Regions from separate parts of the Homo sapiens genome. Here region 2 is linked to region 1. The links come from fine-mapping of genetic effects on gene expression. Tissue or cell type: whole blood. Region 1 holds a variant in brackets; the other region holds the start of a gene. All regions are shown on one strand. Distances are from middle to middle.

Evidence for each region. PIP is the estimated chance that this variant, and not a neighbour inherited with it, causes the effect.
Region 2: it holds the start of TMEM65, and the variant in region 1 is fine-mapped to the expression of TMEM65 in whole blood (TOPMed, PIP above 0.99).

The regions. Positions count from the first base shown.
Region 1 is chr8:124,193,120-124,201,223 of GRCh38, forward strand. LOC124902015 (a long non-coding RNA gene) reads left to right here. Exons shown (of 2, transcript XR_007061086.1): 2 at 981-1,271. It overlaps LOC101927588 (a long non-coding RNA gene), which reads right to left. Exons shown (of 3, transcript NR_125420.1): 3 at 1-425. Among named protein-coding and RNA genes, the nearest start is that of FER1L6-AS2, 26 kb to the left of the region's middle. RefSeq lists enhancers at 2,689-2,748, 2,779-3,018, 3,059-3,108 and a silencer at 3,299-3,348. The variant G/C (reference allele first, on the strand shown) is at 4,822.
Region 2 is chr8:124,369,145-124,377,248 of GRCh38, forward strand. TMEM65 (transmembrane protein 65) reads right to left here and starts at 3,557. Exons shown (of 7, transcript NM_194291.3): 1 at 2,710-3,557. The coding sequence starts at 3,013. RefSeq lists silencers at 2,580-2,629, 2,640-2,769, 2,820-2,949, 3,080-3,349, 3,470-3,699 and enhancers at 3,424-3,718, 3,930-4,119.

The DNA of each region.
Region 1 (8,104 bases):
TTCTGGAAGATGCTTGCTCTCTAGATGAGGCATGGCCCACTCTGGTCTGGGCCCCTGGACACACTCTCTTACCACCCTTCAGCACACTTCTCCTCTCCACTGAGTAGTAAGACACCAAGTGCTCAGCTGTGGCTATGACCTATGGAAAGGTCCATGGCATCTACCCAGCCTTCCGTCACCAGGGTCCACCATCTGAGACTCATGGGGCCTGGACAGAAGGCAGTGCTGATGTGCCCAGGCCAGGGCACTGGGGCACCATGGGACTCAGGCAAAGTCTCAGTGTAATGAAGACCTGCGCTGCCTGGCCTTGTCCTCTGTGCATCCATTTTCTTGTGGCAGCACGGCTCAGGATTTCCAGATCATGCTCTTTCAAATACCATCATCACATCTGGGAAGTGCTGACACATGTAGAGGGAAAAAAATGTCTGGAAGGAAATACACAAAATGTTATCACTGTGGATTTCTATAGGGTAGTGGGTAACTTTAGTTTTTACATTTGAAATGAAGCATTTTATAAATATTTGTTTTCCCTAAGTGGTTTTAAATTTTCTTTTCACTGATCTGCATTTTCCAATTTCACTATAATCAATTTACAGTCTTTTGTAGTTGAAAAAGTTATATATATATATATACATATATATATAGCTACTCCAGTCATAAAATGACATGCAGCCTTCCAGCTAGAGCAGGACCAGTTTAAAAAAGAAAAATTCCTGGTCAAAAATGTCAAACTCTGCAATTTTAATTCCACATTAAGTGTTTTCTATCACTTATCCATATCTTATAGTTTCTGTAGATCTGTATCTTACAGTTTCTTTACAAAAAGGCCACACTATATTAACTTATTTTAATCCAGTGCTTTTTGACCTTGGAACCTGTTTTATCAAATAACACCTAAAAATAGCCTATAGAATTGATCGTTCTAGCAAACATGCTTTTGGAAACATTGATCTGGTCCAATTTTGCTTCCCCATTTTCAGCCAATAGAACTAAGGTCCAGAGAGATGAAGGGACTCATTCAGAGAGTCACACAACCATGAAGAAACCAAGTTTGAAGTTGAGCTAAGGTCCTCTCATGCAAGACCACTGTCAAATCCTGCTGGTCAAGCACACGCCACTCCCAGGACACAAACACATTGTTGTGTCTGTGAACAGTGTCCCCCAGTGTTGTGAAGGACACACCAGTGTGGCTGTACCACACTCAATTCACACCATTACCAAGGTTGAACAGTTGAATAAAGTATTTTCTGTTATTACTTGAAGAAGTAAAACAATGTCAAAGCTAATTGCTGCAATTATCAAAGTAGCTTTTAAGAAGGTCCTTGGCCAAGCTTGGTGGCTCACGCCTGTAATCTTAATACTTTAAGAGGTCAAGGCGGGCAGGGGGCGGTCACTTGAGCCTAGGAGTTCAAGGCCAGCCTGGACAACATAATAAGACCCTTTCTCTATAAAAAATATTTTAAAATTAGCGAGGCTTGATGGCATGCGCCTATAGTCCTAGATACTCAGGAGGCTGAGGCAGGAGGATCACATGAGCCCAGGAGGTTGAGGCTGCAGTGAGCTATGCTAGCACCACTACACTTTAGCCTTGGCAGTAGACCCTGTCTCCAAAAGAGGAAGAAGGTCCTGAGAAGGCAGATATAGTGGCTTTGCTCTGCTACAAACTTGGGTTCTCAGTGTAGGATCCTGGCTGGCTGACTGAAGTATAGTTTTGAGAATTAGAATACAGTATTTGTCTCTCTTTTTCTGCTTTTCTTCCTTCCTCCTTAAAAATTAAAAGACACTGAGTGCCTCAGAAGTGTGCAAAGCATTGTGCTCTAAGACAGGCCTCATGGGAGCTATTGTCAAAGCCATTGCTATTAGCACAGGGTTCTCTAACCTGCTGAGGAATTCCATTTTCAGGACAAATTTCACTGCATTTAATTTTGGCTTTCTTACCCACTGCACCAAGTGAGCCGAACCCCCAATGGTAATTAAAATGACAAGTACATTTCTTTCTCTTCTTCCGTCTCACCGTTCCGCATCCCAAACAGACTCAGTACCCCTGGAAAGCGTCCACTTTTTTGTCCCACTCTGTCAGCCCAGACATGGAAATCTTTCTTTACTTCTCTGAACCAGGAAGCCAGCCTTGCTTCCTTTTCTGTACCATGTCCAAGCTGTGACTGAGTCCTGCCAAGTCCCCCCGCCACTTCCCTCAAATCCCTCCATTGCTCCTGACATCCGTGTCCTCTACTTCAGTGCCGTCATTGCATCACTGCAACAGCCTCCCCCGACTGTGTCCCCGCTCCCTGCCAAAAATGCCTTGGCCTCTCCTGCCTCCCAGCCTCTGTTCTGTCCACTGGCTATCCACGCCCCTCCTCCCTCCTGCCCACAGCTCCTTCCCATCCTTTAGTCTTCGGTTTAAGTCGGGATTTTCCTCTACCTCCTTCCTCTTTATTTTCAAAACTGATTGCCAGAGTTTAGGCTGGTGCAAAAGTCATTGTGGTTTTTGCCATTAAAAGTGGTTGTGAGGCCGGGTGCGGTGGCTCATGCCTGTAATCCCAGCACTTTGGGAGGCCAAGGCGGGCAGATCACCTGAGGTTAGGAATTTGAGACCAGCCTGACTAACATGGTGAAACCCCATCTCTACTAAAAATACAAAAAAATTAGCCAGGAATGGTGGCGGGTGCCTGTAATCCCAGCTACTTGGGAGGCTGAGGCAGGAGAATTGCTTGAACCCAGAAGGTGGAGGCTGCAATGAGCTGAGACCATGCCAGCCTGGTCAACAATAATGAAACTGCAGCTCCAAAAAAAAAAAAAAAAAAAGTGGTTGCAAAAGCCGCAGTTACTTCTGCACCAACCTAATACATTTTTCTTTGTGACTATGTGCTTAATCCTGTGAACTACCTGAAGGCCTAGACAGCATCTCTCGATTGACCTCTATAACCCCAGGGCATGATACCACTTCCTGCTTCTGCTTCACTCCTACTGCTGTGCTTTGAGCAAGCTGTTTAACTTCTCTTACTGTTTGAAATATCAAAAGGGGCTGCTGAGCCCTACCTCACTTGTTGTTTAGAGAATTAAGTCAGGCAGTTTGCAAAGTGCCTAAAAAATGCTTGGTCCTTAGTAGGTAGGAATGCCAGTTCCCTTCCCTCTCTTCTTGGTAGGGGCTATATTGTTATTAGATGGGACGCTTAATGGTAAGCAACAGACACTGAATTTGAGCAAAAACACAAAAAGGGAAGTGAGTAGCTGGTGTTTGTAAACTGCAGAAGTACGGCAGAGAGTAAGACCAGGGACTCAAAGGCCCTCAACTATCTGCTTTTCTCTCCCTCTCATTTTCTCCCTCTTGCATTGTGTGTGTGTGTGTGTGTATGAGTGTGTGTATGTGTGAGTGTTTGTGTGTGCATGTGTGTGAGTGTGTGTATGTGTGTGAGTGTGTGTATGTGCGTGTGTGCATATGCATGTATGTGTGTGAGAGTGTGTGTATGTTGTGTGAGTGTGTGTATGTGTGTGAGTGTGTGTATGTGTGTGAGTGTGTGTGTATGTGTGTGTGAGTGTGTGTGTGTGTGTGTCTTATCTCTGCTTCTCTGGCTATCCCTTTTATTTTCTTAACTGTCCACTTTTTTTTTTTTTAAAGACAGAGTCTCTGTCACCCAGGCTGGAGTGCAGTGGCACAGTCTTGGCTCACTGCAAATTCTGCCTCCCAGGTTCAAGCAATTCTCCTGCCTCAGCCTCCGGAGTAGCTGGGATTGCAGGTGTGCACCACCATGCCTGGCTAATTTTTGTATTTTTAGTAGAGACGGGGTTTCACCATCTTGAGCAGGCTGGCCTTGAACTCCTGACCTCAGGTGACTCACCCGCCTTGGCCTCCCAAAGTGTTAGGATTACAGGCATGAGCCACCGCACCCAGCCTCAACTGCTGATCTTTCTGAGGCAGGAGACTGGTCTCTACAGCACTTGGCCTTCCCTTATAGCTTCACTTTCCAAGAAAAACAGAAAAAAATAAAAGCTCTTCTTTCCCAAGGTCCATTTACAGGAATCCCAGGAAAGAACTCTGATTGCCCTGACTGTGGTCATTAGCCATTCTCCTAACTATCACTAGGGTCAGAGGAGTGCAGACAGACAGCGCTTACTCAGAGGGGGACGGGATGAGGAACAATACTCCTAAAAGAAGGTGGCTGCATTTCCACCGAGAAGCGGACAAGTTCCAGGCAGACACCACAATGAACATCCACCAAGAGAAACCCGATTTAACACAACAGTGGATGCCATGGCACTGTGATAATTACAGTTGCTTCTGCAAGCTATTTATATGCCTTCCTCCCTGGTTACATTTCTGGAATCTTGGAAACAGAGACAATGCCTTTGTTATGGTCCTTTCTCCTATGCTAGCAGAGTCTGGGGCACACGAGGCTGTGAATAGTGCCTGAATAAATGAATGAACAAAGGTAAGCACCAAAGCTTCCGATGCTTCTCTTTCCAGCTACAAATTGCTCCTATGATCTGGGTTCGGGAAAACAGTTACATAATGGCCCTCAAAGACTCTCCTTAGCTGTTTATGTCTTAAATGGTCTCACTGAGACTTGCCCACTCTCCTTTACCTTGCTTGGCTTCTTCCGTGAGTTTCCATGTTCCTATTTATAAATGTCACTTGGGCCCAGCTCTTTGGGCCTGATTCTCTCCTCACTGCCTCCCTTTCTTCCTCGTAGGGGCAGAATGCTTTGGTTCACCTGAAATGGCTTTTCAGAGGAGGTACAGCTGTTCGATGTGTTACGGCCCCATCCAGTCCCCTGTGAAAGAGGCTGCAGCATTTCCTCACTGCCTATTTAGCCACACCCC[G/C]CCAGGACAGAGCGTAACCTAGCAGCTTCCGGATTTAATGCATGGAATGATCAACAGGCTGCAAGAGGAAGTGACTGGGCCAGGGGCCCAGAGTCACAAGCTCATTCAGTCCTAGGCCTTGTAAATTCCAAGTCCCTGGCCATGGATGAGCCTTGGACTGCTTTTCTCAAGCCCTAGAGGTGAAGTCAGCCACCTTCCATATCCTAGGCTCATGCAGGGTGCTGGGACATTGATAACTCAGACCACTTCCTGCCCTTGAAAGGCTGAGAAGAAAATTCGTTTTACCGCAATGCAGAGGTCTCAGACCATCAGTTGCACAGCATAGAAGAGATTAGAATCCTGAATATGCCCTTTGCACCTGGAAAGACCCTTGTTTGACTCCAGAAAACCCTCCAGGGCTCCTTTACCAAGTACCAGCTCATAGAAACAGCTAAAGAAAAATCTATTAAAGTCATTTATTTACAATCATAGAAATTTTAGAGCTAGAGGAAAATTCAAGGTAATCTGGTCCCAAACTGTTAGTTCACAGGAGAGGAAGCTAGATCTACAATTACACAATTATACCATCACTGTGGTGTGCAAACTGTCCCCAAGACTGTCATCTTAATAATGCATGTCATTTGCTGTTGGAAAAAAAAAATACATTGAATATTTAGGTGAGGCCCCAAGCTACACATACCATGATCACATTCGATCCTCCCAATAGTAAAATGGGTGTGTTTATTCCATCTAATAAATGAGGAAACAGAAGCACAGAGACATTAAGTGACATGCTCAAGGTCACACAGCTGGTAAATGATGGATTAAGGATTTGAACTCAGACTCAATTGTTTTCAAAGCATCTATTCCAATGAGAATGAAAATGTTGGCCAGGCACAGTGTCTCACGCTTGTAATCCTAGCACTTTGGGAGGCCGAGGCGGGTAGATCACCTGAGGTCAGGAGTTCTATACCAGCATGGACAACATGGCGAAATCCCGTCTCTACTAAAAATATAAAAATTAGCCAGGCATGGTAGCGCATGCCTGTAATCCCACCTACTCGGGAAGCTGAGAATCGTTTGAACCCGGGAGGTGGAGGTTGCAGTGAGCTGAGATTGCACCACCACACTCCAGCCTGTGCAACGGGAGTGAGACTCCATCTCAAGAAAAAAAAAAAAGAAAGAAAGAAAGAAAGAAAATGTATTGAATTAATGTTACTGAAATAAGGCCAGAAAACCTAGATTCTATTTCTAAATTTACCACTAACAAGTTGTAGGAACTGGGAAAGACCTTTCATTCACTGGGACCTAGCTTCCTGTTCCATAAATGGAGAGAACAGAGCTGGGTCAGTGATGGCAATATGTGACCACTTTCTCATCCTATGCCCAAGACAGATGTGACTGTAAGACCAGGGTACCATTTCTGCCTGAGCTCAAAGTAGGCTTCTAATGTAGAGCTTTATCCAGCCCCTCCCAAACAATTGCTATTGGCACAAATAAAATGCATTTGCCACCCCTTGGCCCAACGAGCTCTCAGATCCATTCCAACTCTATTTAATTCATGAAAATTCTGGCCCTGGATTTTGTCATTTCTCTGCAGTGTTGGAAGAAAAATAGGAACCGCTTATCTGTGATTCCACAGAGCAGAATCCTGCCAGAAGCAGATCCCTGCTGTTCTCCTGACAGATCATGGGCTGTGCTCAGAACTTCAGGGGCAGGGGTGTAGGGGCCTGCCACAAATGACAGGAGGCCACGATTCCATTTCGTCTTCTTCCTTAACTCTGATCCACATGAATGGAAAGCTTTCCTTGCTCTGACATTACTGGAACATCACATAGTTCTCTTATGAAATGAATCTCTATTGCTGAAGTGGCTTGATATCAACAATAAGGCAGCCAAAGAGGTACATGGAAAAACCCCACTGTCTTCCCATGCTGATTGGCTTACAGGATGAGGGGGTGATGGAGGGCCAGTGAGTCAGAGCTATTTCTACAGAAGACATCCAGAAACACCAAGTTAAGTCAAGTTGCTGAGTCTGTGGTGAGCCCAAGACAGGAGGTAACAGAAGAATGGAAAATCAGGACAGCATTGAAATCTGATGCTGAGTTGACAAGTTGCTGTCAAATGCCAAGCACAGAGGACAGCAGGAAGTGAGCCAACTGCAGAGAGCTGAGCACCTGGCCAGATCATCAGGCTACCTCTGTCCAGACCTCAGCAGTGCCCAGGCCTTCACGTAGCAGTCACAGGTCACTGCATCCTGCCAAAAAAAGGCAGTCCATTCTTCAAGGTGTCTGTTTGAGTCTAGTGTCAAATTACCCCAGATTGTCAGCAAGTGCCTGTGGCCCTGGCTTGCCCTGGTAGATGAGTCAGCCCAGCTGTGAAGAAAGCCCTGCCGGGCCCTGGGAGGCCAACGCATGCCAGCTGAGGCAAGAAGACAGCATCAGCCCTGAAGCCTGTGTGGACAAGGAGCCCACTCCCTAACTGAGGCCTGGGACCCCTAACCCCACCCCGACTTCAGATGGGGCTGTGTTTCCAGGACTGCCTCATACCCCATTTCAAATCAGGCTACTCAACAGTGACATTTAGTAACAGAAATCATGAAGATTCATTAGATGACTCAGAGAAAAAACAAACAAACACTCTCTCCAAGAAAGAGAAATTCACAGGAAGGGGCCACATCCATCCAGTTCTGCCCTTCCCGTTTCTCTAGCTCAGTGGTTCTCAAAGTGTGGTCCCTGGACCAGCAGGAGTGACAGATTTTTGCCACGACACCACTTCAGTAATGTTAATTAAATATATTTCCATTCTTTTAAGAGTCAACATAGCTTAGTGAGAAGAGCAGAAGCTCTGGAGCTTGTTAGAAATGCCCCACCCCAGACCTCTTGAATCAGAAATACTGGGGTGGGGCCCAGCCATCGGTGGCCTAACCAGCCTTCCAGGCGATTCTGAAGCCTGCTGAAGTTTGAGAACAAGGACGTCTCCAGCTGAACCAGCCACCCCTCAGGAGTAGAGGGAATTCCTGCTCCCCGGCCCAACTTTGTTATGGAAACCTCCCAGGACAATCTGCATCAGCGAGCTGATCCTAGTCCCCAGCAGCAGGTGACAAAAGGATCTGGCCTCAGGACTGTGTCATCCCTAGGACGTGATAACAGGCCATTGTGGCTGGGGCATATTAGTGGGTGCAAAAGGAGATATAAATCTCGTATTTGGGAAAGGAATGGGAGGGACTGAAGAGCAAGGAAAACTAAGCCCCTTCTTATCTCCTCAATGCTCAGCCACTAGAAACTCGTAATTAGAGCTATTA
Region 2 (8,104 bases), 180 kb after region 1:
GAGAGATCAGGCTGAGCAGGTAAATTGAAGGCGCAAACTCAACTTTTTTTTAAATTGGGAAAGAAATTGGTTTGTAATTTTAAAAATCACAATATTCTATTTAACTATGATAAGATATCCCACAAGGTCTGCCTTATCTATTACGAACTGATTCCAAAGCTTTATCTCATCACAGATTATATCACATGCCTACTGATAAACATATAAGAAAGATAAGGGCAAATGTGCCAAATTTCAACAGCAGATTCCACTGCCATATCAAAGCATGGATGATATTTTTTCAGTAACATTTCCATACCAAATCCAAAACACTTCATTAGTTTATACAAGCACCCTTTCCAAAGACACACAAGATTGCCTATGGCAAGAAATAGCCCTTTAAATAGAATTAATTTTGTTAGAAAGTACACTTAGTACACACACACAATACATCGGTTGAGTACTTCAAAACATTATTCAAAAAGCAACAATAAAAGAAAACATGGGAGTTTTTCATTTATCTGGCTGGAAAAAAATTGTTGATTTCAGCAATGGAATGAGCTGTACGCATTCCCAACATAATAAAATCCCTTTTACCTTAATGATTAATGAATAAGGTAATTTCCTAAGTGATGATTCTAGTTATCTCCATAACTATATGTATTGATACTGAAAACAGTAAGTGAACACCAAGACTACATACACTAACAAAGCAGCAGCATCTGTGTCATTTGATTCATAGGACAATCATTTTGTCATCGACATCAGCAAAAATAGCTGATTTAAACTTTGATGTTCTTTAGCATATAAAGAGGAGAGATAAGCATCTGACTAACCATTGTTTCAAATATCCTTGACTGTTTCTCCTGAGCAAAGAAGACAATTTAAATTACTAATTTCTCTCTCATATTAGTAACATAACTAAGTTTAATTGATGCTAATGATCTCCATTGACTAAAGTGCTTAGGTCCTTTTCAGAATATTTAAAACCACGTTAAATTTAAAAATATTATCTTTATTAGGAAATGTAGCATTGCTACTGCAATACTGCTGGCATGTAAAAAATAATAATGTATGAGAAAAAAATTATTCAGTCACCTTGCAGGACATGTTTTTCAAGAACTGCCACAAAACTATATTCATAGGGCCCTCCAATCTTGTAACTTGTTGACAATGCAGAATTTCCAAGAAATTACTTGGAAAAGGTAAAATGTGTGTTCAAATAGTCTTGTCAGTGCAGAAAGATTCAAAAGTTAATGTTCTAGTACATGACTGACTATATTATTTTTCCAAGGAGCATATTTTCAGAATTGACTATTTTTAAACTGCATACTGAGTGCACACATAGATTACAAATGTGCTAGTGTTTCATTATGATTGCATATAACATCATGATTACACATTGAATAACGGAATTGATCGGACGTTACATTTTCCTGTAAAAGCACTGTGGGTAAACAATGTCTGGAATCAATCATCCACTATAAATTGGTCCACAATTTCCTGAACTGAGGGGGAAAACATCTGATTAAAAGCCACAACTAAAACAAGTTTCTGAAGTAGTACAGATAACGTCCTGCTTACATGAGGTAGATAATTCTTTCCTCCATTCCTGCACATCAGCTAAAGATATACTTTCAAGTCTGGCAAATCAAATGGCATGATCCGAATCAATGTGCTCTACACTTTGGAATCTATGAGATGTTTATGTACCTACCAAGTTTAGAGAGGAGAGTAAACTTTTTTAAAACTTTCAAACACATCAGAATGTAATACAAACTGAAGCAATGTGTTTTGTTTACATAACTGTATTTAAGTGGCAGAAATATTTTAAGACATCCATTTTAGTCGTTTGCTCCTTTCATCCTTTTTATTTTCTGAACTTTTAGCTTTTTCACCTAGACTCAAATTCTGCCCTACCCCATTCTGGACTCCTTTTAGAAATATCCTATTTTAACATGCTAGTTTAAAAATCGTTTTGCTTTCATCATTCCCAATTACTTTTGAGCATCAGTCTGACTTTTACTACAGAGCCACAGATTTCCAAAAAATATACCTCCTTATTTATTTCATTCTTTCAACCTCTGGGAAAAACCAAAACTGGAGTTTAACTTGAATCTGTCTTTCCATTTCTGGAGAAAATGTTTCCTTTGGCTGCTGAAATTAACGCAATCAGACATGTGTGGAAACAAGCAGCTATGAGCATCCCTGACTTTCGAAGCTACACCCCTTCTTTTGGCTACCCACCCATACGTCTTCATTTGATAACCGTTCAAAAAGTTTCTTCCTGCCAGGCGGGTTTGCAGCACTTTCTCGGAGCAGGCACAGCATGCCACCTGCACGGGTGCACGCTCGCAAGAAAGCAGCAAGGGCTAAGGGACAGGAGGGCTGGGGAGGGGAGGCACGGGGCAAATCAAAACTCAATCCCAACAGCGTTAACTGGCATTTTAGGCCGAAGCTCCGGATTCGGAGGCTGGGGAGGAAGTAGCTAGCGCTGGCCTCGGCTGCCTGGCACGACCCGCGCCCGTCCTACCTGCCTGGGGGAAACTCGGGCGGCGGAAAGTCTCCCCGCCCCCAGCCGTCCCAGGCGTGGGGCCAGACAGGCGAGGGGGGCGGAAGGGGGGCGGCGGCGGGGGTCCAAGATCCAGGGCCGCAGCGGGCTCCCGGTGGGCTGGCGAGAAGAGGAGGGCGTCGGGGCCCCCGGGCTCGCCCCCCACCTGCCCCCCTTACCTTGGGCAATGGCAATAGACTCGAAGCGGTGCAGCTCTTTGAGCAGGCAGCTCCTCTCCGTGGAGTGCAGGCTGTAGATGAAGTCGCGCGCGCCCTGCGCCGTGTTCAGCGCCTCCATGGGCTCCTTCTTGGGGTGCGTGCCCAGCCGCCTGGGGCCGCCCGGCAAGCCGCCGGGGGGCGCGAGCGCCAGCAGCCCCCGCCCGCAGCAGCACCAGGACGGCGGGCGGGGCGCGGCGGCGGCGGCCGGGCCCGGCCTCAGGCTGCGCGCGGTCCGGCTCCTCAGCAGCGGCAGCAGCCGGGACATGGCGAGCTGAGGAGCTGGGACCCCCGCGGCCGTCCGGCAAGGCGGTTTCTGGCGCGGCTGAGGCGAGAAGGAGCTGGGCTCAGCTCGACCCCGCCCCGAGGTCCTCCTGCCAGGCAGCCGAGGCGCCGGGCACCATGCACTCCGCGGGCCCGCGCGGCTCTCGCCTCCTGTTCCGTCCCCACTTCCTTTCCAAAAGGCCCGCGGCGGCTCCCGCCCCTCCGATGGGAAAAACTTTCTCTGAGACGGCCGGGCCCGGACAGCGCCCGGAGAGGGCGGGCGGTCGGTGCGGGCGGGCGCCTCCCGGCTGAGGAGGAGCGGCGCGGGCGGGCGGGGCGGGCTAGTGTGTGTCTCTGTCAGTCTGATCTTCCAGAGGATGAGTCAGCCACGCACCGCCCTCCTCCAGCGCCGCCCTACTCTCCCGCCAGCTTTCTCACCCTCTAGCCTCCCCACGTCCCCACTCTGTAAGGTTCCCGAGCCCTCAAAGCAGCCGCGCTCCCGAGCCGCAGCCGCCGCCGCCGCCGCTACCCCTAGCGGCAGCAGAAGTGGGAACGGGGCGGGGCGAAAGGGGAAGGAGGTGCGGGGGGGCGGGGAGGTGTGTGAGCGAGGCTGCGCAGGCGCAGTCTGCAGGCTCTCGGGCCGCCCTCCCTCCTAGGGGAGGAGCGTGCACACGCGTCCCCTCCCGCGCTGGTGCGTGAAGGTGGAAGGAGGTAGGGTGCGCCACCCTGTGCTGGCGTTAAACCTACAGATCGGAATAGGGAAAACGAGCTCTGGACCCCTCGCCCGCCAGGGTAGTACAGCTGCCACCCGGCCCCCAACCTGGGGCCACATCTGGAGCTTGTTCTGAAAGGTGCCCCGGCGTGCGGCCCCGCTCTGGACAGGCGGAGAGCTGCGCTGCCACCCCAGCCCCGACGGGATCACGGCGCTCTGCTCCGGAACGAAGCGCCCCAGCTGCGCCCTTCGCCAAGTCAGCGCCCACCGCCGCTTCGGCCGAGCAGGCCGGCTCTAATGCAGTCGCTCTGGGCGCCCCAAAGAGAAAGCGAAGCCAGTTCCACCCCTGCCCAAGGAGGGTCTGAGACTGAGCCCTTGACACGAGAACAGTCCTCCCCGTTCAGATTCCAGCAGCTGGCATGCAAATTGTTAATGCTAGAGGCAGAGGCAAGAATGTCATAGACCTTTCCTAGTGGTTGCTTGTGATTTTTTTGTCTCTGTGCTAAAGCGGGAAGAATAATTTGATTGTCCACGATTTCCCCTGATCCAGGTCCTAGGCATCTTTCAAGGCCCAGGTGAAAGGTCTCCTACTTCATTAAGCTGTCCCTAATCTCTTCTAAGGGAGGAGATCTCTGCTTTATCTGAACCTGTCTAATGACGCTTAGGCACCCTTAGAGAATAAATCCACTTAATAAATCTGCTGGAGCGTAATCAAGATCTAAATCCCATCCTTATCATAAACAGTGCTGCACTCAGCCCGGAAACTTGTAGGTAGTAAATGTGCTACATGTAAGTAGAATATTAAACTGAATAATGGAGGATTGTTACCACTAAAGCCTCCTACTTCTCTAACTCTGGTTCTCAAAGTGTGTCCCAGAGCTTTTTAGACGTGAGAAATAGTGGACCCCACTTCACACCTCCTGAATCAGAACGTAGACATTGGACCCAGTCATGTGGGTTTTAACAAGCCCTCCAGTAATAACACACACGAAAGCTTGAGAAACACTGATGTCTCTTAAACATTGAAAGGAATCGCTTCTTTTTTAAATTCCAAGGTGATGCCTCTGTGATGTAATAACAACAATTAAGAATGCTCTCTGTGGAAATGAAAGCTTTTTGAGTGCATAAAGTATATCTTCCTTGTCTTTGAAACCCCCTTCATTCCCTAGTGTGCACTGGAATCCTCTGCAGAGCTATTTCAGTCTCAGGCTCATGGGAGTACCACCCCATCCCCCCCACAATTTCCTACCCCCAAGATATTCTGATTCACTGGGGTGGATCACAGGCCCCAGACCTGGGAAGTGAGGTTTGAAAAAAGTTCTTCAGTAAGAACCCATTCCCAACCACCTCCAGAATAGTAGTTTAGTGTGTAGCCTCCAGAGACAGACTGTGGAAAGTTCGATCCCTGGATCAACCGTCTCCTAACTATGTGTTAGTATTAGATTGTTATAGTAGTGATCCCCAATGAACTACACCTTCTATTATCCGCTCCGTTGTGTGGTCCACCTCTACATTGACTGTGGGCTTGGCTATTTGACTTGTTTTGGTCAATAAATAGGAGGACATCATAAACGTGATATGATACATGTTTGCTCATTGGGGTTTGCTGTAATGCTTTTGCTATATTACTATAGAATATTTAATTCTATTATAAAACAAGAGAAACTAAAATGTAGAAGCAAGTCACTTATGAGAAAGGTTACACATAGAATGAATGGATATGGGTTGAACATAGATAAAAAGGATGGAACAAATGAAAATGCTGCTTTAGATAGAGGCAGAAAGACAAAGTGGACTTTTAAGTATTAATAAGGTACAGATCATACTATCTTCAGATTTACAGCCATGTCATCCCTAAATTGCATACCTACTGGTAACACCCATTGTAACGCTATTATGGCCTCATGTAATCTCTTCCCAAGAAAAGCAGATAAACCCCCAGCTACAAAGCCAACTAATGCCAGCTACCATTATAACCAGACACACTTGCCCCTCAGCTCTGTAACAGAACAGACATATGTTGAGCCCAGGCCCCTTCAGTCTGTTGAGTCACCTTACTTACTCTCCAGTCTGGTCCTTGTAGCCACACTATGTGCTGAGAAGACTGGATGGTGGAGAGGGATAAGACATGAGAACATTGCATAAAACAGAATTTAGGTGCTATGGTCCTTCAGCCTATCCTAAGCTTATTAATCTACCCTATCTCTTTCCCCTTGCTTCTCACTCTGTTTTATGTTGGTTGGTAAACTCTTCTGGTTATTATTGCTGCTCTTTGGGTAGACACATTATGCCAAAACTTAGTAGTTTAATTAGCCAATTTATTTTGCTCTTAATTTTGAGGCTCAGAAATTGGGGAAGAACTTACTTGGACAGTTATTTTATTGGAGTCGTTTATGTAGTATCAATCAGATTTCAACACAACTGCTGTCATTTGAAAGTTCAGCTGGGCTGAATAGCTAAGATGGCTCACTGACATGGCTGACTGGTAGCTCAAATGGGGCTGAGAACCAGAGCACTTTCACACAGCCACTCCAGCATGGTGATCTTCTCACCAGACAGCTGGCTTTCCCCAGAGTGAATGTCTAAAAAGAAGCAGGCTTGTGGCGTTTTCTGACCTATCCTTGGAAGTCACACAGTATCACTTCCACTGTATTCTACTGGCTATAAGCCAACCCCTAGGGCCAGCCCCTATTCAAGGGAAAGGGATATAAACCCCACATCTTAATAGGAGTAATGCCAAAACCTTTGAGGATACGTTTTAGAACCACCAGATAATGTGATTTAAGCTTCTTAATTTGGCCTATAAGCCTATCTATTTCGTGACCTGTAGGTGTATACATGGAGGCTGCCATTGCATCAAGGTAATTTTCCACATGGAAAAATTGCCTCGAAGACATTTACCTTTTGGAATCCAGCTGCTGCATAAAGAAGTCTGATGTATCCTGCTGGAAAGACCAAATGGAGGAGGAGGCCGTAGCCAACAGCCCCAGCTAACTGCCAAACATGCATGACAGCATCTTGGACCATCCAGGCTCAATTGAGCCCCAGATGACAGCATTGGGGTTGAGAGCACTAGCTCTAGACTCAGACTGCCTGGATTTGAGTCCTTATACTGTCATTTCTTAGCTGTGTAACCTTGAGCTGATCAACCTTTCCGTGGTTGCCCATCTGTTTAATGGGAATAAGAACATGTTCAGTTTGCTCACCTGTTAAATATAGATAAGGGCATCTGCTTTGTAATGTTATAGTGAAACCAAATAATACATGTAAAGCATTTCAAACAGCACCTGATACATGACAAGCATGCAATAAATACTAGCTATTATTATCTAAATGCCCACGGACCTCTCAAATCTCTACGATTATGTCTTTGGACCCTCATTTGAGAAATGCCCACCTAGCTATCTGTCATTTAATACATGGATGTGTATTAACTGCATCCCCTAACCACTTCCTTCTCTGAACACCTGAATATCCTAAATATGAATGGATGAAGGATCTAGGGAGGGAGATAATTTGGGGATCGTTTATGGGGCTGTGGAGCAGGTCTAGATGCAGGTGGCAAAGGGGAGTTTCCGAAGAAATATGATGGTGCTGAAGAGGAAATGCTAGCAGGCTGGAGGGGCTACAGAAATGGAAGATAGAAGGAAGGAAAGCCCAGAAGGCAAACTTGGCCTGAGTTCAGCCCAGCCTGTTCTTCGCTTTTAAAGAGGACAACTGTCATACCTCGGTTAACAATCACAGTTTCCTCCTCATGAAAAATTGCTGCTGAATCATCAGTCCATGGTAAGCTGCATCATATAAATACGCTCCAGAGTTCCTGGCTTCCCTGTTGCTGGCAGGGCACACAGCTGTTTGCTGCCTGCCATTGATGAAACTTTATACACCCAGCTATTCTGCTTTAAAATTCTTGAAATTGTTGCTTTACCTAGTGGACCCTTTAATCATTTCTTCTGCCCATATTTTTGCAATTTCCTCATTGCACTTCTCATCCATCAAGCTCCTGCCTTAGTATTCTGACCCCTGGAAGGCCTCTGCCCCATCACAGTGGTGGTGAATAAATTGTTTCTTCACAATGGAAACCACAAAGTCTTATTAGAACAATTAAAGAAGACTTAAATAAGTGGAGAGAAATACCAATTCAAGATTGAAAAACTCAGTAGTATAAGATGTCAATTCTCCCTAAATGCATTTGTCAGGGTTCTCCAGAGAAACACAACCAATAGGATATAGAAATATATACAGAATGAAATTAATTATGAGGAATTGGCTGGTATGGTTATGGAGGCTGAGAAGTTTCATTATCTGCTGTCTGCAAGCTGAAGGCCCAGGAAAGCTGGTGGTATAATTTAGTCCAATTCTGATAGCCTGAGAACCAGGGGG